Homo sapiens: one gene and its partner. The protein of the gene in region 2 interacts with the protein of the main gene of each other region in a biochemical or structural test. Each region holds a gene or a part of one and is shown on either strand. Other genes may lie near its edges. The genes, in order: LRRK1 and SCEL.

Region 1 (16,372 bases), on a different chromosome or scaffold from region 2:
CAAGGGAGAGTGAGAAAAATGTGCTTTTGGGGATGCTGAGCCCCGAAGCTTCAGGTGCCTCCAGGACTGCCCGGCTAGCCTGAGGGCTGGGCTCCTACACTGTGGGGCTGGGCCAGGGGATCCAGGCACGTACCTTCTCATCATATACAATGCGAGGCCTGATCTCTGGGGCCTGGTAGCCAGGAGTGCCCTCCACGCCTAGGGCGCCCTCATGGAATGACTGCCTCGAAATCCCGTAGTCAGATAGCTTGATGTTGATGTGCTCCTTGACGTCAAGGGACCACACCAGAATGTTGTCCGACTTCAGGTCACAGAAGATGATGTTTTTCTTGTGCAGGTAGGCCAGGCCCGAGGCGATCTGGTAGGCTATTTTTTGGGTGAGCATGTGTCCCAGGGGTATAAAGGAAGAATCTTGCAAAGAAAAACAATTTTCAAATGTATCAAAATTTCAGTTTTGATAGAATCAAATTATCATGATAACAACTGTCTTTTTGTCTTCCGATCTCCCTAGATACTTTATGATTTTTTTTCTTTTTTCTTTTATTGAGACAGAGTCTCCCTCTATCACCCAGGCTGGAGTGCAGTGGCATGGTCTTGGCTCACTGCAACCTCTGCCTCCAGGGTTCAAGCAGTTCTCCTGCCTCAGCCTCCCAAGTTGAGTAGCTAGGACTATAGGCGCGTGCCACCATGCCTGGCTAATTTTCGTATTTTTAGTAGACATGGGGTTTCACCATGTTGGCCAGGCTGGTCTTGAATTCCTGGCTTTAAGCGACCTGCCCGCCTGGGCCTCCCAAAGTGTTGGGATTACACATGTGAGCCACTGCGCCTGGCCCTTAGATACTTTATATTCCATTGACACATTCTCACTATTCACCAGACTGCCATAAAGGACAGAGAATGGCCTGGTTAAGTGAAACAGTATTTAGGATAGAAATGCTCATCGCTGTAGCTTCATTCCTGATATCTTATTCCTGGAATTGCTGGCATTTTGCTGAATGAGCAAGGGTTCGAAATCTCTAGAGTTCACCTCAGGTCAAGGCTGTCCTACGTAAAGGGGTGAGAGGCAAGTAGAAGCATTTTGTTTGGCTGGGCGTGTGGCTCATGCCGGTGATTCCAGCACTTTGGGAGGCTAAAGTGGGGGGATCGACTGAGCTCACAGTTCGAGAACGACCTGGGCAACAGGGTGAAAGGCCATCTCTACAAACAACAACAACAAATTAGCTGGGTGTGGTGGCGTGTGCTTGTAGCTACTCGGGAAGTTGCGGTGGGAGGATGGCTTGAGTTCAGGAGGTCAAAGCTGCAGTGAGCTGAGATTGCACCACTGTCCTCCAGCCTGGCCAACAAAGTGAGATCCTGTATTAAAAAAAAGTAAAGAATTCTGTTTAAAAAATTATCTTCCATTGAGGCAGAAGTGATTGATTTTCATAGCATTTCTTCTTCCTTAGTCAAAAGACAGCTACCTTTCACCCTCTGGCCACTCTGGAGTTTAGCTGCTCTTTTCTCAAGGTAAATTACTTCGACATTTTATGTTAAAATATGGTCCCACTGACCCTGCGGTCTCAGAGTCTCAGCAGCCGTGTACGTGTGCAGTTGGGAAAGTGATTCAATGCAGCTCCCGTGCTCGGTGCCCTCCCAGCGAGGCCTGTTACCATCCTCCTTTTACAGGCAAATAAACTCAGCGGCTTTCCGGACCGCGGCAGAGCCTGGTCTTAGCCGACTCCAGAGTGTGCGCTCCCCCGTCCTCGCCAAGGCTCTGCCTAGTGACTGGACCTGGCGGGGAGCCTGGCCTCGCAGCCAGGGGATGGTCACACGAGCCATGGGTTGGGCGTGCCCTGGGCTTGCCAAGGCCACCTGAGGCTCTACCCCCCGTGCCAGGCAGGAGGCGCCCGGGGCTCTGTCGGTCTCCGGGGCCGGGTGGGGCGGCGCGCCGCGGTACCTCTGGCGTTCTCGGACAGCACGGTGTTGAGGCTGCTGAGCGGCGCGAGCTCCAGGGCGAAGCAGAGCGGGTGGATGCTGATGCCGATGAGCGCCACGATGCAGGGGTGCTGCAGCGCGTGCAGCATGCTGGCCTCCTGCCGGAACTCGGAGAAGTTCTTCATGGCATCGGTGGCCCGCAGGTGCCTCAGCATGGTGTCTGCCAGGGACAGCGCAGTGTCAGCCAGTAGGACATGGGGTGCCTGCAGCCTCAGGCCTCTCTAAGGCCGCACAGAGCTTAGACCCGGGCAGCATATGTCTGAGAAAAACAGCACCAACCTGGGACCCGCTTACCTGCCGGTACGTTAGCAAAGTTCTTGAATTTTTTGATGTGGAAGCGCTTGACGGCCACAGGCTGGCCCTGGTACCGGGCCCGGTAGATGACGGTGCCACTGCCGCCCTGGCCCAGGACGCTGCCCTCGTCCTCGCTGTGCTCCAGCTTGCTGTTCTCCAGGAAGAGCCTGCCACACACGCCCGGCATCAGCCACATCCCCCCCGCCCTGATGCGGGTGGGTCCTGGGCTGGGTCATTTGCCCCAACGGCCGAGAGTCATGGTTCAAAGCCATCTGTGAGGCTGGACAGATCTGGGCCACCCCGGCCCTGCCACTTGTGGGTGAGCACACCTGGGTAGGTTATGCAGGCTTGCTAAGCCTCAGTCTCCTCTGTACAGAGGGCTCTCAGGACAGGAACGGCCTCAGAGGTGGTGATGGCTGGCACAGGGTGAACCCCACAGAAGTGGTGGCCGTAGAGAAAGGACCCCTTTGGAAGTTTTCTTCTGAAAGGTGACGTTTCCTATTTCCTCCCCGATTCTCTCTCTAGTTATGATCTTGGGTTAGCATAGGTACAATAAACTCTAAGAACAGATTTGAGGGGTCCAAGGCTCAGCGCTAGGGCTACAGACAGGAGTCAGCGTTTGACAAAGAAGGTAAACGAGGCTCTGGGTGGGAGCTCAGCGCTAGGGCTACAGACAGGAGTCAGCGTTTGACAAAGAAGGTAAACAAGGCTCTGGGTGGGAGCTCTCCCTTCTCTCCCCTTCCTGAATGCTTGAGGAGCACTGGCTGCACTTATCTGCTGGCCCTAGAGCTGGTGGGGAGGTAGGAGTGGAAAGGAGAGGCAGCTCAGGAGAGAGCAGCTCTGGCTACGAGGGGAAGGGGGAGCCGTATGGGGAGGCAGGATGGCTGCACTTGCAAAGCACTCTTCCCAGTTGGGCCTATCAAGGCCTCCAAAATGGAAAGCCGGCAGCCTGGTTCCTTTCAGGCAGCCGAGGATGGGAACCTAAAAGGTACTGAGATTGGTGGGAAGCCATGGCCGGGGCACCTGCCCGCCCCAGAGGGGTCTTCCTGGAGATCACTCGGCAACTGCACAGCGAGGAACGCCCCCTGTGACCTGCACTGTGTTCTGGGAGGGGCCTTCGGGGCATACCTGGCCGGGAAGTCGGTCATGAACAGTTCAGGGACCAGCTCCTGCAGCGGCACGGGGAGGTCCGGGTGTCTGGGGCAGGAGATGAAGTCCCGCTCGATGGCCGTCAGGACACAGTCTTCCATGTCGAAGTACTGCACATCCTCTGATTTCTCACTGGGGTCCGTGTGCTGGGCCCAGGCTGTCTCGCAGACCGGGCAGGGCACGTACTGCTCCATGAGTGGCGTCCCGTCGCTCTCTGTGGCTGTCAGGGCTAAATAAGGACAGAGCAGGAGACAGCTTCACAAGAAGGTGGTGCAGGAGGGCCCCCCGAGCAGCACTCTGCACCCCAGGCCCTGAGGCCTTCGCAGCAGGGGAGCTGCCTGTCCTGGCCTGTACCCAAGAGACAGGCTGAAACCCACTGCCACATTCGGGTGCCTTTTTGGAGAGCGCAATTGTTTGTCCTGAAAGATGTGTCCAGGGAGGGTTCAGGATGCTTCCGAGAACTGTCCAGTGGTCGGGACACTGAGCAGGCTGGCTGGGGGGCCTGAGAGGAGTGGGGGGATCCCTCCTGCATGACTGGGCCCTAACAGGTCATCGCAGACTAGGTGTGAGCTATCCTCCAACCATCACGGCAGTGGGGAAGGCACCCTTCTTACAATTAGAAACATCAGGTTTACAATGTCCATGAAGGGCAATGCAGGGGCAGAAATGAGTGCAAATTATCATAGACGAAACTCAGTCACCGGACACGGGATTCCCCCACGCCTCTGAGAGGAGGTGCAGAGAAACACCCTCCAAGATGCCCTGTGGAGGTGCCCTCAGGGCCGGCCAACTGCCTGCTTCATGCAAGGTAGGAGGTGGATGCCTAGAACTTTCCAGGCACATCTGATATCTGCAGGTCCATGTGTAAGGCATCCCGTTGGGAGGGGCCCCTGGCTGGGGATGCTGGCTCCAGGCGATCTGTCTCAGGTGCTCACCAGAGCCCTTTCCATCTCAGGTGACTGTCTAAGGGACCCACCTGTCAAACTGCCCAGCACCTGCTGTGTGGGGAACACTGGCTGGTGGGGAGCTGCAAAGTGCCCAGAAGGGTTCACATGGGCCTAAGGGCCCCCTTAGACAGCCAAGTGCCTCCCAAATCACCATGACACGCACACCCAGCTGACTTCTCCGAGGGCTCCTTTCTAAGCCTTTTTTCCTTGTAGGTCACCCTTCCTGCCAACAGTGTGAAGGACCCCAACCCTGACAGAGACCAGACCCTGGGATCTGGAATGTGTATCCTGAGTGCATTCTGCCACTGCCTCTTAGCCACCTTCCCTGATGCTGTCTGGGATGCAGGCATTGCATGCAGGTGAGGCCGGCCCAGGAGGCCGGGGGACCAGCCGAGGCTTGCAGGGGTGGCACTGGAATTCCAAACCCGCTCTCCCACAGCTGCTTGGCCTCCAGCGTTCAGGGGCTGAGGCTCTCGGGCAGCCTGTCCCACAGCTGCTTGGCCTCCAGCGTTCAGGGCTGAAGCTCTCAGGGCAGCCCCTCCCACAGCTGCTTGCCCCATTAAACCCCAGATGGCCTCCCCCTGGCAGGCTGCTCTGGGAGTCGTCTCCACCCCAGGAGCAAAACAAACAGGAGGCCTCAGGAACTTCACTCAAAGAGTACTTTTTTTGGGTGAACTATCAATGAAGAAACAGATCCAAAGGGTCTGAGAAGGGCGGTGTTAGTGGTTTGATCACCGCCGGGATGGGTGGGGTGGCAGGGGAGGAGAGCAAGGCCCCTTGGCTGCCACGGCTCCCCTCCATCCCTGCCCCTGCGCAGGGGATAAATTTCCATCTGCCGGCTCCCCTGCAATTTCAGCCACACAGTCCTCACTATGAAAACAAGACACGTGTGAGCTCACACTGAGCATCTCCGTGGACCACTCGTGGTACCAGTGTCATCTTTCTTGCCACGCCTGTGGGCAGCTGGCAGGCCGCTTCCCTGCACATTCCCAGTGGTGTCCGAGCCCAGTCCTCCCCGTGGGACTCCCCCCAGTGACAGAGCTGGACTTCTCGGGGGCCAGGACTCCCACCAAAGTGCTGTTAAGACCCCCTAGTTTTCTTGGGCTGAATCCCAGTGGGATTTTTGTCCACCCCGAAAGCAGCAGCCCCACCCTGATTCATAAGAAATATTAGCATGAATGAGGGCTTGCTTCTAGCATCTCCTCTTACCGGGAAACCACTGATCAATCAAGGAATTGACGTGGTCCGTGATGAAAGCCATGGCTGAGAAGTCCCTCACTTCTGATTGGCAAACAATTTTCATTCCTCCGCTTTTCTTCTTTTTCCAGTTCACGTCGGAAGATTCCACACTGCAATCCAGAGACCAAAAGGAGCCCATTGCGATCTGGCTCTGGGGGACCCTGGGATGATATCCCTACCCCCAGGGACAGGAACCAACCCCCGGGGACCTGGAGAGACTCTGTGCCCTGCAGGACCGATGGGGGACTCCTCCCTGTATGTACGTGTGCGTGGCCCTGCCTTGTTCTTGCCCCGGACCTGGCCTGGTGAAGGAGGCACGAGGAAGATTGCAGTCAGGGACGCTCAGCCTGGGAGCTGACCCTCAGGTGAGGCCCTAAGGAAGTTCCCAGACCTCCCTGAACCTCAGTATGCTCATCTGTCCAGCAGCAACCCTGGGCCTTAAGTGAGAACATCTATGCGGAAGAGGCAGGTGCCAATCAAGCCCTCTGTAAAGTTACCTCCCCTTTTCCCTTCTTCTCCTCTCACAGAGCTGAAGAATATTTTGCAAAGTTCATTGTAAACATTAAAATAATCTTGGGTGTTTATCATTCGTTAAACCTGTTGGGCTGACTTTAGGTCTACCGCTCTCAAAAAACCAAGAATAAATGGCACAGGGAGCTGAGTTCCGTGTCTGGTTATGGGCAGTGGAGATGGGGGCTGAGGAGTCTCAGCATCCCCTGTCCCCAGCCTGGCTTCTCACAGAACAAGGGGACGGGCAGGATGGCTGCAAGGTCACCATGGTGACCTGAATAACCATGGGAAGTGCCTGAGGCTCTCCTGAGCTCAATGGCCGCCACGTCCCTCAAGTCCTCAGCTGTGGCCGCCACATCTGCCTTTGCCTTTCCCGTCCTGCAAGGGGGGCTCAGCAGGGGTGAGGAGACCGGAGCCTCTGGGACACTCGTGGGAGGGCCTCACATTTCTAGCAAGCTGCCATGACGAGCCGCTCTCACGAGCAAAATTCTGGACACCAAGAGGATGAGGCATCCTGCTGACGTGGCCCCGCGGTGGCTGCTGTGGCACCTGCTGACCTGGCAGGTGGGCTTCCAGGTGTTCCTACCTGAGGTAGCCCCCATCAAAAGTGACCAGGAGCCCTTCCTGCCAATAGATGGTCTGATTTCTTTTCACTCTGAATGTGCTACAGCGATTTCTCTGGTTTCCTGTAAAACTGTAAATGGTGACTTTCCTGTTCCTGCTTTTAGTATTCTTCTTGTTTTCAAAAAGCTGAAAGACAGAGAAAAGACCCTGCTTAAGTATTCTGGGCTCCTCGCTGGCCCTGGGCAGAGCTCTGCAGAGGCCGGGCTGGGCCCCATCTTGATAAATGTCCCCCATCTTTCCCACCCTCTCCTCCCACGCTGCTCATCCCTGCTGCCAAATTGAACGTTACATTAGCTGACGGGGTCTCCAGGGAATTCCGGAAACACAGTTTTTCCAAAGAATTGAAAAATAGGCTTTCCTTTAAAATTTTTTTCCCTTTCTGACTTTACAAGCAAAAATTCATATTAGAAAATGTAGAAAATACAGAAAAATGTAAGAGGGAAAACAAAACACCAATTTAACACCAAGCAGAGAGATCATTCAGATTTTGGTATATATTATTCCAGGATTTTTTTTTTTTCTATCTCCATATGTTTGTGAAAAACAGCTGAAGCCATATTGGATTTCTAATTTCGTATATGTTAAAAAACCCCACCTTTCCTATGCCATTAAAAACACACATAAAATTCATTTTTCTAAAGTTTAATATTCTATTAAGCATAGTAATTTCCTGAACCACTCTCTTCTGGAAGTGTAAGTTGGTGCCAATCTTTTGCTCCCTCAAAACCACCTTGAGTTACATGAGAAAGGCACAGAGCTTTCTCTGATTGAAAATGATGTCCTCAGTTTAGATGTTTACCAGTCGGATTATTGGTCGAAGGGTCTGATCGTTTTAAAGCTCTGGATGTATCCCGAGGAATCGCTTCTCGAACGACGAGACTGTCCTGTGCGCTGACTACCAGTGTGCGCGGGGCCGCTCCGTGCCCCGGGCTGGGGATTACGGCTCAGCTTTTTGCTAATGTGATGGATGAAAACTGGCATCTCACTGCTGCTTGAATTTGCATGCCTTTGATGAGTGATGAGACTGCACTCTTTTCCCCCTCCTGTCACCCATCTGAATTTCAATAGGACTTCTTTCCTAACTTCGAGTGAGGGAAGCTGCTGCCCGGAAGGGCGCCCTGGCCTCCAGGCCCAGCTGGGCCCCACTTGTCAGCTCAGCCTCCCACGATGCTAGTGCTCCATGACCCTCCCTTGAGAAGACAGCGGCACACAGAGTTCAAAGGGAGGGCAGAGGAATGGGAACGTAGGAGCACCAGCGCCTGCGCCCACTCCTTCAATCAGTGCACCCTTCTGGCGCTATTAACCCATCTCCCTCCCCGCTAGCACAGGCTGCTACTGTCACGATGGACTTTAAGGCTTTTGCATTGATTTTTTTCTTACCATTTCGGTAAAAATGGGAAGATCAAAGAACATTTTTATAGAGCTAAGAAGTTATAATTCAATAAGGGCTTTCTAATTAGGATGTAGCAACAGTAAACTCATACGGAGTTTAATGTCAAGGATTTGACAGTCAGGGATTATGCCAGAGGTTCGCAAAACCAAAAGTGTGTCAGAATCCCCTGGAGGGTTGTGAAAACCAGTGCGGGGTTCCCCCTGGAGTTTCTCATGCAGTGGGTTTGAGGTGGGGCCTGAGAACGTGTGTTCCTCACACGTTCCCAGGTGAGGCTGATTTTGCTGGTATAGGAACCCCACTTTGAAAAACACCACTGTAGCAAATGTTGCTTCCATGTTCCTGCCCTGCATGAAATTAATGTTGTCTGACAGCGGGGACGCCTTCCTGTAACCCCAGGTAAACCCACAGAAGCTAACTCCTTGGGCGGGGGGTCTCCCGTGTTACCAGAACCAACGTACAGTTCTGCACAAGTGGTTCTCAAACTGGACTGCACAGGGGACTCGCCTGGGAGCCTTAAAAATACCAAAGAGGAATCACTTTTTCAAATGATGCCACACTCAAAGACCCTGATTCAATCGGTCTGGAGTGTGGTCTGTGTCTTTTAGAATTTCCTCCAGGCGAGTCTAGCGTGCAGCCAGGACGGCAAAACCGTGCTTCTAACTTCACGGTTCTCCAAGTGTGGTTGCTGGGCCGGCGGCATCACCTCGGGGAATGGATAGAAATGTGAATTCTTGGCCTCAGTCCACACCTACTGAATCAGAACCTCGGGTGGGGCCACCAAACTGTGTTCTAACAAACTCCAGGTGGTTTTGAGGTGGGCTAACACTGAGAACCACTGTTTATAAAGGGCGTGTTCTGTCTAAGGAGGGTGCTGCTTTGGAACTCCCAGGATGGCTTCAGTGGGTTGGCCAGCAGCCCATGCCACACCTGCCCCCTGGCACTACATTGGTGGCATGGCTCTAGGAGAAGGGTCTCCAGGCAGGGCCCCCCAGCAAAGGGCATTCCCCTCCCCCAGTGGTACAACTGTAGGTGGCTCTCGGGCATCTGTCTATGCAGAAACCGCAGCCATAATACCTGCAGGTCCATCTCCGCCAGGCTGATCAGCATCCGTGCTATAAACCTTTGCCAGAAGCCAACGGGAACGAAGCTCATCTTAAATACCCTCTGAATGGTGTTGGCTGTGGGGTGCCGCATACCGTGGGTGTCCAGGCCAGGTTTAGATGGAAGGAGATGGGGCAGGAGGTAGCTGAAACACACCAAGGGGGACTGGTGAACAGTGGGGCCCAAGCTCCACTGCAGGGCCCTGACCCCAGCAGATGGCCTGATCTGGGGACAGGCTGTGCTGGAACACCTCAGGCTGCTGGGTTCCTTCCTCCCAGGGCCTTTGGAATTCTGTTATTAGTAAGAGAAGCGTGGTTTATATGCTAAGAATAAATACTCCAAAGGAAAATGAAGACTGGTCCCATTAATATGAGTCTATCATGGTTTCTAAGATACTAGAATAAGGCTAAGGGAAGACATGAAAACATCATGGTCCTAAAAATGTCAGACACAGCAAATGGGACTCAATTCTCTATAAACGGGGTTGCAGTTGGGGAAATAACATTAACTTTGGTTGATGAAGGAAAAACAAACACAGCTGCAAGGTTTCAAGGACAATGCAGATATTAGGGTCAGAGTAACATTTTTGGCCTTTAAAGCTATTTATTATTCTTGGCCCGTTGACACGACGCGATTGCCTTAAAAGTTAGAATAGGCCTGTTTTGTGCGGAAGAGGGATGTTTTACGAGAACACTCTCGGTCATCATAAAAATGCTGCATCATTGCATCGGCAAGGGCTTCACGGCTGAAACCTGGGAGGTCCCTCCAAAAGGGTGCCCGAAAACCAGCAACGGCTGCATCCTGTGGGGCTGCGGGGGCAGGCACTGGACAGGTACAGGACGGCCCCTGGTGTGCAGATGCTGCACTCCTTCCCAATAAAGGTTTTACCTTCAGCTCTCCTAATCTTAAATCTATTTCAGTCCAATAAATGTCCTTAGAACTTTCTGGAAAAGACTCCCTAAACTGTAAGAAAATTCAGTGACAGCCCATGGCCCGAGCATACAGGCGCAAGTCTCGGCTCTCACTTACACGCTCTGACACATGGGTATACAATGGGGAGAGAAAGGATCCCCTCTTGGCAGGGCTGGTGAAGGTAGACGGGGGCTGTGCAGATGACACAGCAGACACAGGTGGTGAAGCAGGAGGCCTTTTCAGCCTTTCAGGTCTTGAGTGAAAGGACATTCCCAACCTCTCGCTAGATGCCTCTTCATCAGAGTGTCCTGTCTTATTCCTTTACATCTGAAAAGTCCTTGCTTCTCTATCTGCTCAGTGTTTGTTCCCCATACAGGAGGCCCTGGGCCGTGCCTGCTGTTTCTTTCTGCTTTTTCTACTTCATCTCATGCATCCTGGGTCTCTCATGTGGCCCTCTTACAGTGGTGGTGCCCCATGTCTGTCTTGCTCTTCTCCTTGTCGGAGTGTGCTTAGAGAGTGGGGGGAGCATTCTCTGTCCCCAGGCGTCCCAGCACGATGTGCGGTGGCACACAGAAGAGGTGCTCCATGATGTTTTTGAGGGCAGAGGTTTAGAAGGTGACATGGCAAATAAAGAGATCCTGAGTGGCCACAGAAGCCAGTTCTCAAGGGAAGCAGTGGTCTCCAGGTAGTGGAGGCCGCTGGCTCCGGGTTTCAGAGCAATTACGAGCTGGGAAAGGCCGTCCCAGGGAATGACCAGTGAGTCGGCAGGACAGGTCCTAAGAGGTAAATTCTTCATGTGTTTGATGAACGTAAAGCAGTGAAACCCTGGCAGGGCACAGTGTCTGCACGGAGGTGCTGGCTCATGCCACCCCACTGAGACAGCCTCAGACAGGGGCCGCAGCCCTTCTCAGAGTCTGCTGAGAGGCAAGGACCTTCCTCCTGAAAGAAGCACAAAGGCTTAAAACTGTATGGTACTTCCAGGGAGTTCATGGAGATTTTCTGAGGGGCTGGAGGGGTTCACTGCAGGTGGGAAACCATGCTCTGAGAGGAGCCGCAAATGTGTCTGTTTGCACAGATCCAGGGATCCCAGCAGCCTTAGAAAGCTGATGATGCCAGGAGCGGGGACTTGCCTGGGGCTCAAGGGAACCATTATGCCTGTGCTGAGATGAAACGTGTCCCACTATTCCTGGATGTGTACAGAACCCGACACCATGGCTATGAGTACCTACCACGAAGAAACAGTAACAATAACTGGACTGTCAATACTGGATGTCTTGGGAGCTTAAGAGACACTGTTCTGAGTATTTTACATGTATTTGTCAGTGGCTGTTCCCATGCAGGAGGCCCTGGGACATGCCTGCTACTGTTTCTTTCTGCTGGTCTGAATATTTTACATGTATTATCTAATTTAATCCTCACAACAACTATCATACTTATGGTAATTATATTATACCCATTATGCAGACGAGAAAGAAGGTAGTTGGGATTCATACTTGTGCGTCCCAACTTCATATTCTAACCTGCTGTGCCATAAGCCTTGGTGAGGACCTGGCCGTGATCACACTGATGGTCTTGTTCAGGCCAACACACACACACACACACATTATAAATACGTGTACGTTTTATACATATAAAAACTGACTTCATATAGATAACTGACTTTCTTTTACTGAGTACTCGTATCTCCTCACTCCTCTAACCTGCGATAAAACAATCTGAAAGTTGTCAGATCCGGCAATGTTGTAAACACACAGGCTGCCTTACTCTGAACGTTCTCATGGACCAAAGTTAAGGACACCGCTGGGCCATGTTATGAGGGGCTGTGGAATTTTGAATTCCTCTTTGGGGTTTTATTTTGTAAGGAACCCAGAGAGCTGGAGCAGCAAGAAAGACTTGAGGCCCCTCCCATACCTAGTGGGAGGTGGGTGGGGCCTCAGGCAAAGGTGGGGCCAGTGGCTGGTTCCCAGGTGGCCGGGTCTCTGGCCTCACTGTGCAGGATCCAGGCCTGCTCCCCAGAAGTCTCCAGGTGACACCCCTGTAGAGATCTGGAGCTGAGGACGCAGAGTGGCGACGTGTTCTCTGGGTGCTGCATGGCAACATTCTGTGGATTTGGATCCTGTGGATTTGGATCCTGGATACAGCTTCATTGCCAATATCAGCATCAAACCCAGGAAGCGGCTGATATGGAAACTAGTACTCAGAGGCCTGAGGACCAAGCTGGTTTAGGGCAGAGCATCATGGCAGGTCTCACCCCTCGTGTGCTCCCCCAGCCTGGCCCTCGTAGGGGTCCCACCCCGAGGGGAGGCGTTCAGTTCAGCTACTTCAGAAGATATATCCTGGCAATGGGTAGCACAGAGGAGAGTAGGAGGAAAGAAGAAGCCAACACTACACTTGGTTTTGATGAAAACCAAGCCTCAAAAGTGAGAATTTGAAGGAAGAAAAGTTAAGTAATAGCTCATAAAGAGTCTGCACAAATCCCCCGACAAGAGCACCCTGCTTGTAAGGATAGGGGGCCTCACTCCCTCTCCCCTGCCTTCCATGGGCCAAATGCCAGGGCCAGAGCACATGCTGTGGGGAGGCAGAGAAGTGTGCTGCCCAATGCTCAAGGGCTGACAGCATAACTGAGGGTCCGGGCAGGTGGGTAAGAGGTAACAAGTAGGGGAGTGTAAGGGCAGTAAAAGCCACAGGAGGATGGTGGCAGAGCTCTCGGAGGGGCAGTAGGCTTCTCAGAGGCCCCTGGGCTGCAGCAGAGCAGGTGGCTGGGCATCCTTGATCACATGAGAGGAGGTGGCATGGGGTCAGAGGTCCTCAGCGAGGGGTCAGGGGTGACGAAGACTGAGGAGGACCCCTGTCTGCCCAGAAGACAATGGGGTGACACCTTTAAAAAGACTGACAGAAAAATGACCCAGAATTCTACATCGAAGAAAATTATCCAGCAAAAAATTAGAGTGTTAATAAAGACATTTTCATATAAACAAAAGTCTTGTCTAAAAAAGAGAATTTGTTTCCATCAGACTTAGACTTTAAGACATGCTACACGTAATTCTTCAGGATGAAAAGAGATTATACCAGATGGAAAGAAGTGAAGAGCACCAGAAACAATCAACATTTTTCCCTTAATTTCTTAAAAGACTATTGATTGTTTAATTATTCAAAGCAAAAGTAATAACACTATATTATGGGGTTCATTACATATATTGTAGTCCTCCCTTATCTGCAGTTTCTTTTTCATGGTTTCAATTACTGGTCCAAAAATATCAAGATATTTAGAAAGAGAGAGAGAGAGACCACATTTATGTAACTTCTGTGACAGTATATCATAATTATACTGTTTTGTTGTTATTGTTGTTAATTTCTATGTGTTGTTAATCACTTACTGGTTTACAATTAAACTTCATCATAGGTATGTAGATAAAGGAAAAGGCATAGTATATGTAGGGCTCAATACTATCGCAGTTTTAGGCATCCACGGGGGTCTGGAAATCCACCAGCTGTGGATAAGGGGGACTACTGTATAGAAGAAACGTGGATGACAGCAAGAGTACAGAGGGTGCTGGGAGGAGTAATGTCCTGGTATCGTGCTAAGGTTTTTGCATTTAATTCAAGGTGGTATAATATTAATTACAAGTAGATTGTGATAAGGTAAGGATGCATATTCTAATCCCAAGAGTAACCACTAAAACACAGTACCAGGAAGAATGGCCAAAAACCCAACAGAGAGCATGAAAATACTAAAATAAAATTTAACTCAAAAGAAGGCAGGAAAGAATGAACAAAATAACAAAATCAGATGGTATAAATACAAAATAAATAGAGAAATAGTAGGCTTAAACCCAACCATATAATTAATTATGATAAATGTGAATGAATCAAATATTCCTATTAAAAGGCAGAGATTATCAGATTGGATAATGTGCTGTCAGCAAGAGATTCCTTTTTTATAGAGATCATAACCTGCTACTAGAAGAATAGGGAAAAAACCCAGGTAGAACTAAAAGAGCTGGTGTGGCTATTTTAACATCAGACAAAATAGACTTCAAGAAAAGGAGTATTACCAGTGATAAAGAGAAACATTGTATAATGAAAAAAGGGTCACTTCATTACACAGGCATGACACCAATGTGTATATGTAACCAATAATGGCTTCAAAATATATAAAATAAAGCCTGTCAGAACTGGAGAGAGAGGTAGACTTATCATTAGATATTTTACCATCTCTCTCTTAGTAATTGATAGAATGAGTAGGAAAAAAATCAGTGAGAATACGGAAGATTTGAACACGTTGTTTACCACTCTGAGCTAATTAAGGTTTATAAGATACTACAGCCACAACACAGAAAACTCGTTTCTTGTGTGCACTCCAGACTTTCACTGGGAAAGATCACACATTGGCCCATAAAATAAGTCTCAGTGAATTTCAAAATACAGAAATCTTAGAATATATTCTCTGACCAAAATAATATAAGATATATTAGAAAATCTTTCGAACTAAATGATAAAAACACAACATAGCAAAATTAGTTGTATTTGTCATATAAAGCAGTGCTTAGAAAGTTATGGCTTTAAATGCTTACATAGAAAATAGGAAAGGCTTAAAATAAATGACCTAAGCTTCTACCTTAAGAAGGAAGAACAAGAAGCACAAATTAAACCCAAAGTTAGCTGAAGGAAGACAATAATAAAGAGCAGTAATAGATGAAATAAAAGAGAAAAATAATAGAAGAAATCAGCAATGGCAACGGTTCGTTCTTTAAAACGGTTCCAAAAATTTGATAAACACTTAGCAAGACTGATCAAGAAAGAATGAGAGAAAAGACATATTATTAATATCAGGAGAGAGAGCATATCACTACACATTCCAGAGATATTTTAAATATCTTTATATTAATATATTCTGCACCATAGATGAAATGAAAAAATTTATTGAAAAAAAAATAACTTACCAAAACTGACACAAGAATAGAAAATTTTAATAACCCTATAGCTAATAAATAGATTGAATTTGTAATTAAAAATCCTCTTGTGAAGTAAACTCCAGGCTATAAATTCTATCAAACTGTTAAGGAAGGTCTAACACCAATCTTATACAAAATCTTGAAGAAAATAGAGAAGGAAAAAAATCTTTTCAATTCATTTTATGAAGACAGCCTATGTCTGATAACCCATAAAGACTTTTCATCAAAGTACCAACCAATATCCCTCATGAACATAGATTAAAAAATTCTTATGCAAAATAGGAGCCACTGAAATCTAGCATTAGATAAAAAAGATAATAAATCATGAACACTTGGTATGAATCTTGGGAATACAAAGTTGGTTTAACATTTGAAAATCCATCAACATATTTAACAGAAAAATAACTGAAGAAAAAAATTAACAGAGGCAGAACAAGCATTTTTGGGGGACAAAATTCAGTACCCATTTATGATAAAAGCTTTTAGCAAACTGGGAATAAAAGGGAACTTCCTCAATCTGATAAAGTTTCCATGGATAACAAAGCTCTGCAGAAAACATCACACTTGATGGTGAAAGACTGAATGCTTCCCCCCTGAGATCACACAGAATGACGCCTTCTCTCATCCCTTCTATTTAAACCTTCGCTAGAGATCCGAGCCAATGCAATCAGGCAAACAGAGCAAAAAAATATGTGAAGATTAGAATGAAAAAAGTAAAACTGTCTTTTTTTCAAAAAAGAAGCATACTTAGAAAATCCTGAAAAATCTACTGGAGCTAATAGGTGAATTTAGCAAGGTTTTTTGATATAAGGTAAATATTTAAAAATAAATTATATTTCTGTATACCAGCAACAAGAAATGGAAATCAAATTAGAAGATATGTCATTTACCCATATCGGAGAACATAAATTATGTAGACACAAATTTAACAAAAGATGCAGAAAATCTGAATACTGAAAACAAACCACCGTGGAGAGAAACTTTTTAAAAACCAAAATAAATGAGAGATATACCATGTTCATATTGGAAGATTCAATATTTCTAAGATGTCAGCTTTCTTTGATCTATAGATTCAATGTAATCTCCATAAAAATCACAACGGTTTTTTAAGAATCAGACAAGCTGATTCTAAAATTTAGATGAAAATGCAAAGGATCTAGAATAATCCAAAATAATCTTGAAACAGAAGAACAAAATTGGAGGGTGTCATATGCTGAATAATGAGCCCCAAAATATCCAGGTCCTAAACCCTAGAACTGTGATTGTTACCTTAC
Region 2 (13,331 bases):
TTCTTGTATCTAGAAGTAAACCAGTTGTCATTGAATAGGTAGCTATAAAATTCACTGTTCCAATTAAGTATCACAATAAAAGGATGACTCATGTCCTTAAAAAATTTAGTAATCGACATGAAATGAAAGTCTAGTACGTGTAGCTGTCATTTGGCAAAGCATCCATGTGAGGAAGAGCTTCTCCCGAGCTTCAAAATCACAAGTTCATGGAAAAAAATCACAGTTTACCATTTGTACAATGGTAAGCTGGAAACACTTAAGGAATATAACTGATAAAGACTTTTGATTAAGGCCGGGCGCATTGGCTATGCCTGTAATCCCAGCACTTTGGGAGACCAAGGCGGGTACATCACTTGAGGTCAGGAGTTCAAGACCAGCCTGGCCAACATGGTGAAACCCCGTCTATACTAAAAATAGAAAAATTAGTCGGGTGTGGTGGTGCACACGTGTACTCCCAGCTACTCAGGAAGCTGAGGCAGGAGAATCGCTGGAACATGGGAGGCGGAGGCTGCAGTAACCCGAGATTGTGCCATCGCACTCCAGACTGGGGAAAAGAGCGAGACTCCATTTAAAAAAAAAAAAAAAAAAAAGACTTTTGATTCAGAAGTGAGCTTTGAACAACTCCAGCTATGTATGCAGCAATTAATACCTAAAATCTTTATTTCAAAGTACCCAGCCAAAGAAAATGGAAAATGATCAACAAATGGTCTAGAAGCAGGACAATGACAGAAAGCGAAGCCATATGGAACCAATAAAGATTTCCCTTGGACTGCAAGGCCAAAGATTTTATCCCCTCACTCTTAAGAAATGCTGGGAGTTGATGCCTGAACCGTATAAGATACTCTCAGTTAAACAATGTTTGCTTAATTTGACGGCTTCGTGAATTGTGTTCAGTTCATTCCACAGTATGAGCTCAGTCATTCAAAATTTGTTTTGTTTACATAGTCCCCAGGAATATGAACCTCTCAGGTATTTCATCATAATTCTGGTAGTCTGAGAAGGCAGTCAGGTAAGCATCACCTACAGAATGGCATTCGAGGCAAGGGTGTTCTGATTGTACAGACCACAGCTAACACACATACATCAGATCCCCTCCCTGCTGAGGGGCTACTGGCTCCTGAGATGAAAATCTCATAAATATAATAAACGGCAACACTGATTCCATAAGCCACAAGTTGGAAAACGTATTCTATTATGTCTTAGTCATACCATACACACTATAATATTTCCACATGTGCTGGGTAACCACAGTCTGTGATGGAGTGTGGCTCATTTATTGCTACTACATATTTTATGATAAAAAGCATTTGAAAAAATATTGAGAAAATTCAGTAAGACAAAAGACAAGCAATCTGGCATCGTGCTCTGGTTCTGCTACTCTGATCTTCACAAGTTGCTTAACATTTATGCTTTGATTTTCTCAACTAGAAAATTCAGGCATTAGACTAGATGGGCCTATGCTCCGTTTCAGTTGAAATATTCTGTCAATTAGATCTAAGATTTATACGACGCTAACATTCCAATAAAAATTCTGGCCTGTTGTTGGCATTCTATGCATATCCCGACATTTAGGATCATCTGAATGTTTTACTAAAATTTTTACTGTTGTCATTTCTCAGTTTTCTCAAATTGATGTTTCCAATACTTTAAACACTGGAGCACCACATATATTAGGAAGGCTTTATCTACGTTATAAACTATGGAAGTGAAAGACAGTTTTAAATGTAATCACATTTTATGAAAAATAAAATTATCCACACTTGCTACACTTTAGTTTTCTGGTTACTATAAACACTTGAAAGCCAAGTTGTAAAATTCTTCTGTAAACCTTTGGGAAATGAGCACTGGTGTGTCTAACCCCCTCTCAGACTGCAGGTGACCTTGTCAGCAATAGGAAGCCATGAGAACTCAAGTACTACAGATAGAGCCAGGTATGCTGTGGGGGCACCTCTCTGGAGGACACAGAGCTGCAATTTGCAAGCTGTGAGTGGCCCCTGCATTTGAATCCCACAGCTCTGTATCATAAATAGAAATGATGAGAAAAAACACAAGTCAGCTTAGCTATTAATTATAAAAGAAAGCTCTGTTAAAAGAACTCTTCTAGCCTTATCAAAAGTCTCCCAAAACTGGTTTTTCAGGACTAGGCTATGAATAAAGTTTGAAAATTGCCCCCATATACATTAATCACTCCTTAGGTTAGAATGCAGAATATACCATAGAGAAGTTGGCCAGATGCCCACAGATCCCTGTGAGGAACCATGTACCCTTATTCTGCTCCCACACCCTGCCTTTACTCCTTGGTACTTTCAAGTGAGAAATGGTGATTTTCTTATTTGGGGAAGATAGGGTGGAGACAAAAACCTCATAAATATAAACCTCTCTCTCTCTCATAGCTCAGCAACTTGCAATATTTTTAGCAGTAGAGAAAAAAATAAATATGACTTATTAACTATAAAGCAATATTTGAGTTCACTATTTCACTAAAAGCATCATTTATGAAAACAGAAAGATCCTTTAAAAAATGTTTGTATAGTCGCTTGAGAAAATAAACCAGCAGGTGCTGGTCCCTTCACTTAAAGAATTTATTATCCTTTGTGTGGCAGGATTCACCAGCTGACAGCTCCCACCCAGAAAATCAAATAGGTGCTCGTTTCTGTGATGCCCATAACGTGTAAAATTGCCAAGAAGTTCAATGCAATGTGACCTAAAAGTACAGCAAGGAAGAGCAGAGCTAACAGCCAGCTGGAGGCTGTCAAAATTTACAGGAAGAAAAGACAAAGATAATACAGTAAGTTCTAATTTTAATCATTTGTAAGGAACACAGAGAAAGCTGTGCACATACAGCAGATGTATTTCTGTTTGCAAGTATAATTCAACTTACCTCTATTGAGCAGAAAATCAGGACTTTTTGGCTAACCAGCCTGTAGTGATTCCCTGGGAGGATCTGGCTGAAAGAAATGGGAACCTAGAGTTTATTCAGTGGAGTCTCAACCTCTACCTGACTGTATTAGTGAACAGTTCAGAGGTTTCTTGCTCAGCGGCTGAGTCACTCAGGGAGGAGGTGTGTGGTATGCAACAGGGTGTCACCTTGTACAAATACCAGTTCAATTAAAGCATTCTCACTCATATACCTACTGTCTTTGTTTGAATTCTTTGTTTAACTTATGGCCTTATGCAAAAAAAAAAAAAACATATATATATATATGCTCCTGTGATCACCCTTTTAACTGATATCAACAGTATGCACAACCATATCACTGACAAGGTGGCATAGGACCCAACCTATTTTGTATTCTCTTTCAAAAAATAAAATTGAAAACTCAAGATAGAAGGAACCCCCATACACCCATAGTACCTGGAAGGCAGGGGCACAGACAAGCATGCAAGGAGTATATGGCTTAAAGGAATCTTCAAGACAAACAAATTCTCAGAAACCCAGGAACCCTAGGATTAGAAAACACAAAAGAAGTCTGTTCCACACATTCTACACCTAGACTATTTTGTAAAACTATCAGAGGGAAAATACACCTAGCATGTAAGAATTCTAATCTCTATCTTATTTATCCATGTATAAAAAAATGTGAAAAGGGGCCAGGCGTGGTGGCTCACATCTGTAATCCCAGGACTTTGGGCGGTGGAAGCAGGCGGATCACCTGAGGTCAGCAGTTCAAGATCAGCCTGGCCAACATGGTAAAACCTGATCTCTACTAAAAATATAAAAATTAGCTGGGCGTGATGGCACACACCTGTAACCCCAGCTATATTAAATAACTATAACACACCATGATAAAGTCATATACAGAAATTTTCAATGCCAGGCATCGCATAGTGGAGAGAAGGAAGAACCTGGAAGGTGATGTTGATGCAGAGTTTTAAAGTCTGAGTGGACAATGATTAGATGGTCAAGAAGAAGAAGAACCATTCATCCACTCTGGCAGGAGGAGGCAGGAGAATCACTTGAACCAGGGAAGTGGAGGTTACAGTGAGCCAAGATCACACCACTGCACTCTAGCCTAGGCAACAGAGTGAGACTGTCTCAGAAAAAAAAAAAAAATGTGAAAAGGATGGTTGAAACTTCTTTCAATGCTGAGGGCAGCAGTAGACCCAACATCAAAGGCTGCTTCTGGCCAGTTGCAGTGGCTTTCACTTGCACTTTGGGAGGCCAAGGTGGGAGGATCACTTGAGCCAAGAAGTTCGAGACAAACTGGGCAACACAGTAAGAGAAGATCTCATCTCTACTAAAAATAAAAAAATCAGCTGGGTGTGGTAGTGCATGTCTTTGGTCCCAGTTACTCAGGAGGCTGAGGCAAAGAGAGTCTCTTGAGCATGGGAGGACCAAGCCACAGTGAGCTGTGATCACACCACCGCATTCCAGTATGGGTGACAGAGTGAGACCCTATCTCAAAAAACAAAACAAACAGACAAAAAAAACAAAAAAAACCCAACAAAAAACAAAGGCTGCTTCCGCTGGGAGGAAGGAGTAACACTGAAGAGCCATTCTAGGCGGGGACTCCTGTTACAGGTTTTGAAACACACCTTCCCTAAGAGCCAAAGAGGCTTTAAAGAAGCTTAGCAAACATTGTTGAGAGAAGCCACGTCATCAGAACTTCCTGGGTGATCGTCATTCATATGTCACACCAGCAATGAACCAAATCCCCCCTGAACAACTGCTCCTGAAAACTACAATGCAGCTGAGTGACGCCCACTGAAATGACTGTAACAAGAAGCAGAAACCCAGACTGAAGAGCAAGGCAATTGCAGTATGTGGTCATTGTGACTGGGAGACCACTTCCTGTATGTTCCCTGATGTTCCCTTATTCTGGGCTGAGGAATTTGAAAATCTAAAATGGAAAATGTTCTTTCAAAGTAAAACATATATACGTGTCTACTCAGCTTTTTTATGGAATTTTATACATGCAAAATATTTTTAAAATATGCTTTAAGTTTCTGTGATGCCCAAAAATCTTGGTTTGAATATTAATATTACAAATGATAAAGCTGAAAAACAAAGACGTGACTTAACTCAAAAGATAAACTAGAAGCAATCTTCAGCCTTAGAACTTAGCCAAAAAGAAAGAAAACAGTTTAAGAGCTCCCTTGTAGGGATAAGTTGTAATTTACATTACAGAATGTTGAAATATATTACTTCATGAAACACAGAACCAGAAAGATAAGTTTTTATCTTATAATGAAGTAAAGTGCAGCTACTCAAGTTATGGATTTTGAGCTTCCAAGCAATTATTTCTGCATGCAATTAAGGGTTTCTCTTACTTTATACATCAGACCATCCACACTGCTAAGCCAAACCAGTGTTTTTTCATTTAGAATCAAATCTCTAGTATAAAAAGGGACTAATTCTAAACCATTGAGCAAAATTCAGACCTCTTCATGCTGAGCAGACATGACTGCCTAAAATTTAAAATCTCAAATGTGAAGAGGTTGAATCAAGAACGTTTTCGGGTGTGGAGGTAGCCAAATAGCCTGAGCATTAGTTTCACTCAGGTGTTTAACTGGGAAGACTTGGGCATGCTTGGAATAACTTGGCTTCACCACACCTATTCACTTTCAGTGTTGGAGTTCTTAAGATCTCTCTAGAACTGTAAGCTCAGAAGCTGAAATGCCAAATGGGTTTTATCTCAGGTACAAATGCCAATTGATTGGTGATGGCTTCCTGGAGGAATATGTTGAGGTTTGTAAGCAAGTAGGGACTCAACAAGGGAATGTCCATGGTTAATTAGCAATATCCACCACAGGTCTTGAATGGGGGAATGTTTTCTGACCCTGTCTCATAAAATTAGATGTTGCAACATCACATTGCTTTGTCTATGTGTTATATCCAAAGAAACAACCAGCCAAAATGAGCACCGTTTTTTTGAGTTTAGGTTCACAGCAAAATTCAGAATAAACAACAAAGAGTTCATGTATACCCTCAGTGTCCCCATTACCAACATCCCACATCACAGTGGGACATTTGTTACAATTAATGAACCTGCATGGATGCATCACTAACACCCGAAGTCCATAGTTTACATCAGGGTTCATTCTTGGTTTTGTATATTCTTTGAGTTTGGAGAAATGCCTAATGACATGTATCCACCATTATAGTACCACACAGAGTAGTTTTGCTGCCCTAAAAAATCCTTTGTGTGCTGCCTAGTCATACCTCCCTCCCTGCAGCCCCTGTTAACCGCTGTTCTTTTTACTGTCTCCATAGTTTTGCCTTTCGCAGAATGTCGTATTGTTGGAATCATGTAGTATGTAGCATTTTCCAGACTGGCTTCTTTTACATAGTAATATGCATTGAAGTTTTCGTCATGTCTTTCCATTTAAGTTTTCTCCATGGCTTAATAGTTCATTTCTTTTGAGTGTTAAATAATATTCCAAGGCCAGGCATGGTAGGTCACACCCATAATCCCAGCACTTTGGGAAGCTGAGGTGGTAGGATTGCTTGAGGCCAGAAGTTCAAGACCAGCCTGGGCAACACACTAAGATCCTGACTTAAAAAAAAAATAAAATAAAATAACAGTAATAATAATATCCCTTTGTCTGGATGTACCACAGTTTATTTATTTATTCACTTCACCTACTGAAGGACATCTTTGTTGCTGCCAAGTTTCGGCAATTATAAATAAAGCTGGTATAAACATGCGTGTGCAGTTTTCTTTTTTGTATATTTATGCTATATTTTGAACCCAGTAATATATAACATTGTTTGGAAACTAAAAAGTATAAAATGGAATAAATGAAAAGTCTTCCTTTTCCTCCAAACCTTTCTCTCCAACAAAAAAAGCAGTTATTAGTTTCTTCTGGGTCTTTCCAGAGACATTTATGCATATACAAGCAAATGTAAGATATGGATATATTATACTGTTCTGAATATTGCTTATTTCCTTTAAGATTATATTCTGAAGATCTTGCTATATTGATTCTTCACAGTTGCTTGGTATTCCATGACATGGATAGTCCATAATCTATGTCATCAATCCACTGTTGATGGGCATTTCCATTATTTTCAAACTTCTGCTAACAATGCTGCCATCAATAACACTGTACATAAATCAGCTGGCACATGTGTGAATCTGTAGGATAAATTCTTAAAAATGTAATTGCTGGGCCCATGTGTTTGCACATTTTAACTTTGGTAGAGCAAATCTTGCCAAACTGCCCTCCGTAATGGATTTACCAACTTATCCTTCTTATTCTCATTTGTCTTCTTTCAATCATTTCTTCATTTAACAAGCATTAAGTACCCATAATTCTCTTAGTATTGCTTCTATCCCAAGGGAAAGGAAAATTAATGAGACCCAGTCTTGCTCACCAAGAATTTACAATTTGTTTGGAGGGACAGACATTGAATTAAATAGCTATAACACACCATGATAAAGTCATACACAGAAATTTTCAATGCCAGACATCACATACTGGAGAGAAGGAAGAACCTGGGAGGTGATTTTGATGCAGAGTTTTAAAGTCTGAGAGGACAATGATTAGATGGTCAAGAAGAAGAAGAACCATTCATCCACTCTGTCATCTTCTTAATGTCTTCCACATTTCCCCTTAATAGTGAACAATTCTGCAACTTTCCTGCCTCATTTCCTCTACCAAAATAGCAACTTGGCAGCCCCAGCAACCCCAGCTCCTCAGGGTGTTATGGGTCCACATTTTCTGGAGACAATCATGAGCCACACTGCAAATATAGTGTAATTCTCCTGGCTGCAGTCTGAAATAAACCATTCCATGGGGATTAGAAGTAAGAATTTTTTTTCTCCCATTGAAAAAATAAGAATGGCCAATTTTTGTAATTAAAATCTTACTTTTAAACTCAGATTATTTCATAATTTTCCTCAATTTAGTTAATTCTCTTTATTCATGTCTCTTCATCACCAAATACTTAATGGTATTACATCATAAGCCCCTTGAGATCAGAGACCAGGCCTTCACATTTGTTTTTATACTAACACATAGCACAATTCTTGACTCGTATAGATATTTACTCAGACATATACATATATGATCCATATAGTAACATTTAATGTTTGTTGATTAAATGAAGGAATAATAATCATAAACAAGTGTGCATGCATAAGGGGTATTTATTGCTTACCTAAAGTCTGGTTTATCTGGTTTATAAATCTGATTTTCTTGAAAGACTAAAGTATTCTCTTCAATTCACCCGGAACACTCACTGATTTTTTTTTTTTCTTTGAGACAGAGTCTTGCTCTTGTTGCCCAGGCTGGAGTGCTGTGGCACGATCTGGGCTCACTGCAACCTCCGCCTCCGGGTTCAAGTGATTCTCCTGCTTCAGCCTCCCGAGTAGCTGGGATTACAGGCATCTGCCACCACACCCAGCTAATGTTTTTGTATTTTTAGTACAGACGGCATTTCACCATGTTGGACAGGCTTGTCTTGTACCCCTGACCTCAGGTGATCCGCCTGCCTTGGCCTCCCAAAGTGCTGGGATTACAGGGGTCAGCCACCCTGCCTGGCCCTCTCACTGCTTTCTTAAAACAAGGGAAGATTTCTCTGCATTTTACAGAGATTGCTCAAATAATAATTATCATAGCTAAACTTATTGCCCAAGGTTGGAACCCCCATCACCATTGCCTCCTGCCTCACCTTCTCCCCACTGCTTTAAACTACATCCAATTTAGTTCATCACTCAACTATTACTATCAATTCTACCTCCTAATTCAGTCTCCCTTCCACTTGATTCCCACCACTGCCTAATTCAGGCCCTCATCATCCTGAGAAAACACTGTTTTCATCACCTGTTAACTGGTCTCTTTCCAGTTCAACTCTAACCCCTGCTCAGTCAGTTAGGCTCTTTCAGGTTGTACGGATCAGTGATAAGATCTGGAAACCTCAGCTAACGGCAGCACAGTTAAGCAGAGCAGACCCAAAGAATCCAAAATGATGATACTTCGAAGTCTACAGTTTATCACAAGAAAAAGATAAAATGTAACAACTGCATTAAAGTAGAGATAAGCATCACAGCTAGGGGCTGTCTCATAGCAAAAAGCCGGAGCCAAGGGCAAGTTCCAACTGTCCTTTCTCCACAAGGTTCTTCTCAGGATCCACTTTCTCCCTCAGGCCAAGAACCACTGACTTGTGAATGAAACACCCAAATGGAGTTTCAGCTGCAGTATCTTATTCCCTGCTGATCCCATAGACATATCCTGCTACGTGACCCTGCCTCCTGGGGTTTCAGCAGACACAAATCGTCAGTCTCACTGTTATCAATAAACAATAATGATTAGCTGGTAAAAATCAACCTGAAACTCTTGGGGTGCTTGGTTACAAAGCCATGCGACCAATCAGTATGTTTCAGATCAGGGCTGTGCAGGCTCATTTCACATTTCAGCAGAACAACTCAGGCTAGCTTCAGGCCTGCTAGAATTAACCTTCACATCCCAGAGGGTTTAGTATAAAGATTTAGGGGTGGTTAGGAAGACAGAATATTGTCTCAGCAGCCTTTCTTAGATCTTAAATATACAAGCTGCTCATTACTTTGCAAAACCAACACTAGTTGGCACAAATCTGGGGACCCAAGGACAGCTCTGAGTCTCGCATGCTCATGACTCAGCTCTCTAACCTTGATTCTCTACCTGCTTCTTTCTGCCATGCTACCAGTTTATCATAGTCTCTATATGTTTCAGTTTAAATCCCCTGAGAGAGATCTGCTGAGTCAGTTAGCCACCATCCCATACTGAGTTTCTGTGGGAAGAGGTCTTGCACGGGGCCATCTCTTGGGTCTCTGGCTAGCCATAAAAGGACAGACACCTACACCATCTCAGTTAGCTGTGACTAAAGCAACAGCACTGATGGTTTAATGCATGGTTCCCCTGAGCCTTGGAACTGCTAAAAGTGAACTACAAGCATGGCCTTGCATACAGTTGTAAATTTCTCTCCAGTAAAGACAGTCCATTCCCTAATGCTATTTTTCCAAAAGACAGATATAATCATGTCGCTCCCCATTTTCCAACCCATCATAAGTTCCCCGTGTTGCATGAAATTCAAACATTTTAGATTCATACACAACTCTGCTGTCTAATGTAGCAGCTACTGTTCTACATGTGGCTATTTAAAATTTTTATACTAATTAAAATTAAATAAATTTACAATTCAGCTCTACAGTTACACTGGCCACATTTCAAATACCGTATTGGATGGAGAAAATAGGAAATGCAGAAAGTTGGTCTAAGATGTCTTGTTAAGTCACTTTCAACTATTCCAGCCTCATCTCCCACCACTTCCCACTATGTGCCCTAAGCTTTAACCACATCAAAATCCTTGCTGTTGCCCAAACATATTATAATATTTTAGGCTTTTAATATCTGTATTAATGCCATTCCTGTGACTTGAAATGTCCATTTCTTGTGCACTTTAGTGATCTCTTACTCACTTTCTCAGTCCCTGCAAACACAAAACCTGATCTATGGAGCTTTTCCTACCATTTCAGACGCCAATCACAGCTAGCTTCCCCCTTTCTCCCTGCTCCAAGGGAACTCTGTATATTATTTTATTGTAATACCCAACTGCATTATATGATAATCTAGTTGTACCCAGCATACCATATGCCATTCTAGAAGAACTTAATAGCAAAGGCAGTTTAACTATTGCTTAAGAGTACAAATTCAGGTGCCAGATGGTCTCTGCCAATGACTACTTGAGTAACCTTTTGGCAAGTCATTTAACTCCTCTTTTCTCAGTTTTCTCACCTGTAAAACGAGAATAATAAAACAGTACCTTTCCCATAGGGTCATTGCGAGGATCAACTGTGTTAACACAGAAAAAGCACTTAGAACAGGGCCTGCAATTTTGCTAAGGTGCTATCTAAAAGTTAACTCTTAGTAAACTGTTAATACATTTTATTTATTCATACATGAGGTATATCTAAGAACAAAACCATAAGCACAATTAGTAGTTCTCCTCTTCTCAGGCACACTTACTGTGCCCAGTGGTCAAGCTCTTTAATACACAATGTTGTTGATAAATATCATTAGTTTTCTATGACTAAATGTAGGTTTTAGAAGGTATATGAAGATCCTCTCAAGAGTCAGTCCCTGGGACTTATTGATGGTTTTCTAAAAGGTTCATCATGCAGGAACTTCCAAGAAAAAAGGAACAGAATGAGAGGTGTCCCTGTGGAGTGCAGTGTTTACTTTAGTACTGCATAATTCATTTCTCTTGGATGATAACTTGTTGCTTCTTACATTCTCTTCTGTTTGATTGGCATGGCATTTTTCTCTTCTTAGACCCAATCTTTCTTCTCTTTCCTCAGTGTTCCCATATCCATCACAGCAGAGTTTTCTTTCTTGAAATCTATTTTATCTCTCCCCTAATAATCCATGGTCATATTAGTTTTCTATTGCTCATGTAACAAATTGCCACAAACTTAGTGGTTTATAGCAACATAATTTATTATCTGATAGTCCTGGAGGTCAAAAGTCTAAAATTAGTGTCACTGGGCTAAAGTCAAAATGTCGGCAGGGTTATTTCCTTCTGGAGGCTCTAAGGAGAGAATCTGTTTCCTTGACTTTCCCAGCTTCTAGAGGTCAGCTGCATTCCTGGTCCATGATCTCTTCGTGGTGTCATTTCAACCTCTTGCTCTGCCACCACATCTCCTGTCAATGACTCTGATCCTCTCATCTCCCTCTTATAAGGACACTTGTGATTATATTGGGCCCACCTGAATACCCCAGGATAATTCTCTCATGTCAATGTATTAATTTAATCACATCTGCAAAGTCCCTTTTAACATGTAAGATAACATATTCACAGAGCCCGGACATTAGGATATGAACATCTTTGGGGGACCATAATCCAATCTACCACACCTATCATATTTTTACAATGTTTCCAAGTTTCCTATAACTTCCTCTATTTTTACAATTAAAAAAACCTAAATATTTCATTAAGTAAATGAAGTTCAAAATGCATGCAATAATTTGATTTAGTAGATAGATACAAGAGAATTCTATACTATTATGACTTTTATTAAGTTAAAGTAGGTGACATATTTAGATTGCTTCTAAAATTTTGTATTTAAAAGCCATGTAAACAAATGCTAGAAACACATGAATTTTTATAGTCATTTTCTACCTTCCATTCATGAGTGACATGAACAGTATTCATTTAACAGGCATGTTTTCAAATGATCACAGGATGCTTGAGTATTGGTTGCAATGATTATGTGAGACCTGTGCCCAGCTACATCTGGGGGAAGCATACTACCTAAGCTGTATATACTACCTATGCACGTATATGTACATACCTCCACATATATGTACACAATATATTTATACTTATGGATCTCTAATACATATGAGATTCATACATATATAATACATATATAGCAGACCTACACACACACACACACACACGTTGACAGCTCTGTGTCTGTCTCCCCTATCATAATGTAAACACCTTGAAGACTGAGCCCTGAGCTTATTTATCCTTGAGTCTTCGGTAGTCCTGACTTAGCCAGTTCTCAGCGATTGTTTCTAGGATGAATATACCTGCATTACCATGTGACACATGAGGAAATGGGACAGAAGCCATCTGACAAGAAAATGAAATGGCCAGGCTCTTTCTTTGCCCGCTTCTCCTTCTCAGCATCTCAACATTGAATAGACTACGCTAGGAAAATGTGGCTCACATGGTCTCCCTCGTTTATGCTAGTGTTTCTGTTGGTATTTTCCTTTACTTCTTGCACATTCTGATGGACTGAATCTCTCAAACCACTGGGGTGTCCCAAAAGTGTGTCCTTGTTCCCTCCCCACTCACAATATCTGCAATATCTGAAAAGCCCTCACCTCCCCCACTCACTTCCTCCTCCAGTTCACTTATTCCATCCACCCCCTTCCACCTCATCTTCAAATTGTCTCCAGTTCCTTTACTTTATATAATCAACAATAAACCCTCCAGAGAAAAGAGGAGAATTCTAGAACTTTTTAATTTTCAAGCTTTATTGTAAATTAGTGGACTATCCTCTATTGGAACAAAATTTGTGATAATTTTAATGGTATCCCTAGAAAACAGGGATTTTTAAATACTTTGGAATTGGTATACTTTGTTATTTCTTTAATTTTACAATATCCCCCACCAATACCTCATTCCTCTCTCAACTAAAAGTTATTAAAAAATAGTTGGCGTCAATAATTTGGGAGTGTGTGTGTGTTTGTGAGTGAGAGAGAGAAAGAAAGAAAGAGAGAGAGAAGCTTTGAGGTCATTGAAAATACTATGAGGTAATTTGCTCTTTTTAAATTTTTGACGTTTTTAACTTTTTACTGTTGATTTGTATTTTATTTTCCACTTATTTACTTAATAT

What was found.
Region 1: the proteins of SCEL (region 2) and LRRK1 form a complex in vitro, tested with the Homo sapiens proteins (2 studies listed by BioGRID and IntAct, with this or other methods).

Annotation. Positions count from the first base shown.
Region 1 is NC_000015.10:101,038,985-101,055,356, reverse strand, and holds part of LRRK1 (leucine-rich repeat serine/threonine-protein kinase 1), read right to left. Parts: intron 13,124-16,372; exon of another isoform or gene 11,219-13,123; intron 9,377-11,218; coding exon 9,205-9,376; intron 6,864-9,204; coding exon 6,700-6,863; intron 6,265-6,699; exon of another isoform or gene 5,714-6,264; coding exon 5,574-5,713; intron 4,724-5,573; exon of another isoform or gene 3,647-4,723; coding exon 3,397-3,646; exon of another isoform or gene 2,968-3,396; intron 2,900-2,967; exon of another isoform or gene 2,436-2,899; coding exon 2,269-2,435; intron 2,135-2,268; coding exon 1,937-2,134; intron 412-1,936; coding exon 134-411; intron 1-133.
Region 2 is NC_000013.11:77,525,375-77,538,705, reverse strand, and holds the start of SCEL (sciellin), read right to left. Parts: upstream 3,001-13,331; 5' UTR 2,882-3,000; intron 1-2,881. UniProt on the Homo sapiens protein: May function in the assembly or regulation of proteins in the cornified envelope. The LIM domain may be involved in homotypic or heterotypic associations and may function to localize sciellin to the cornified envelope.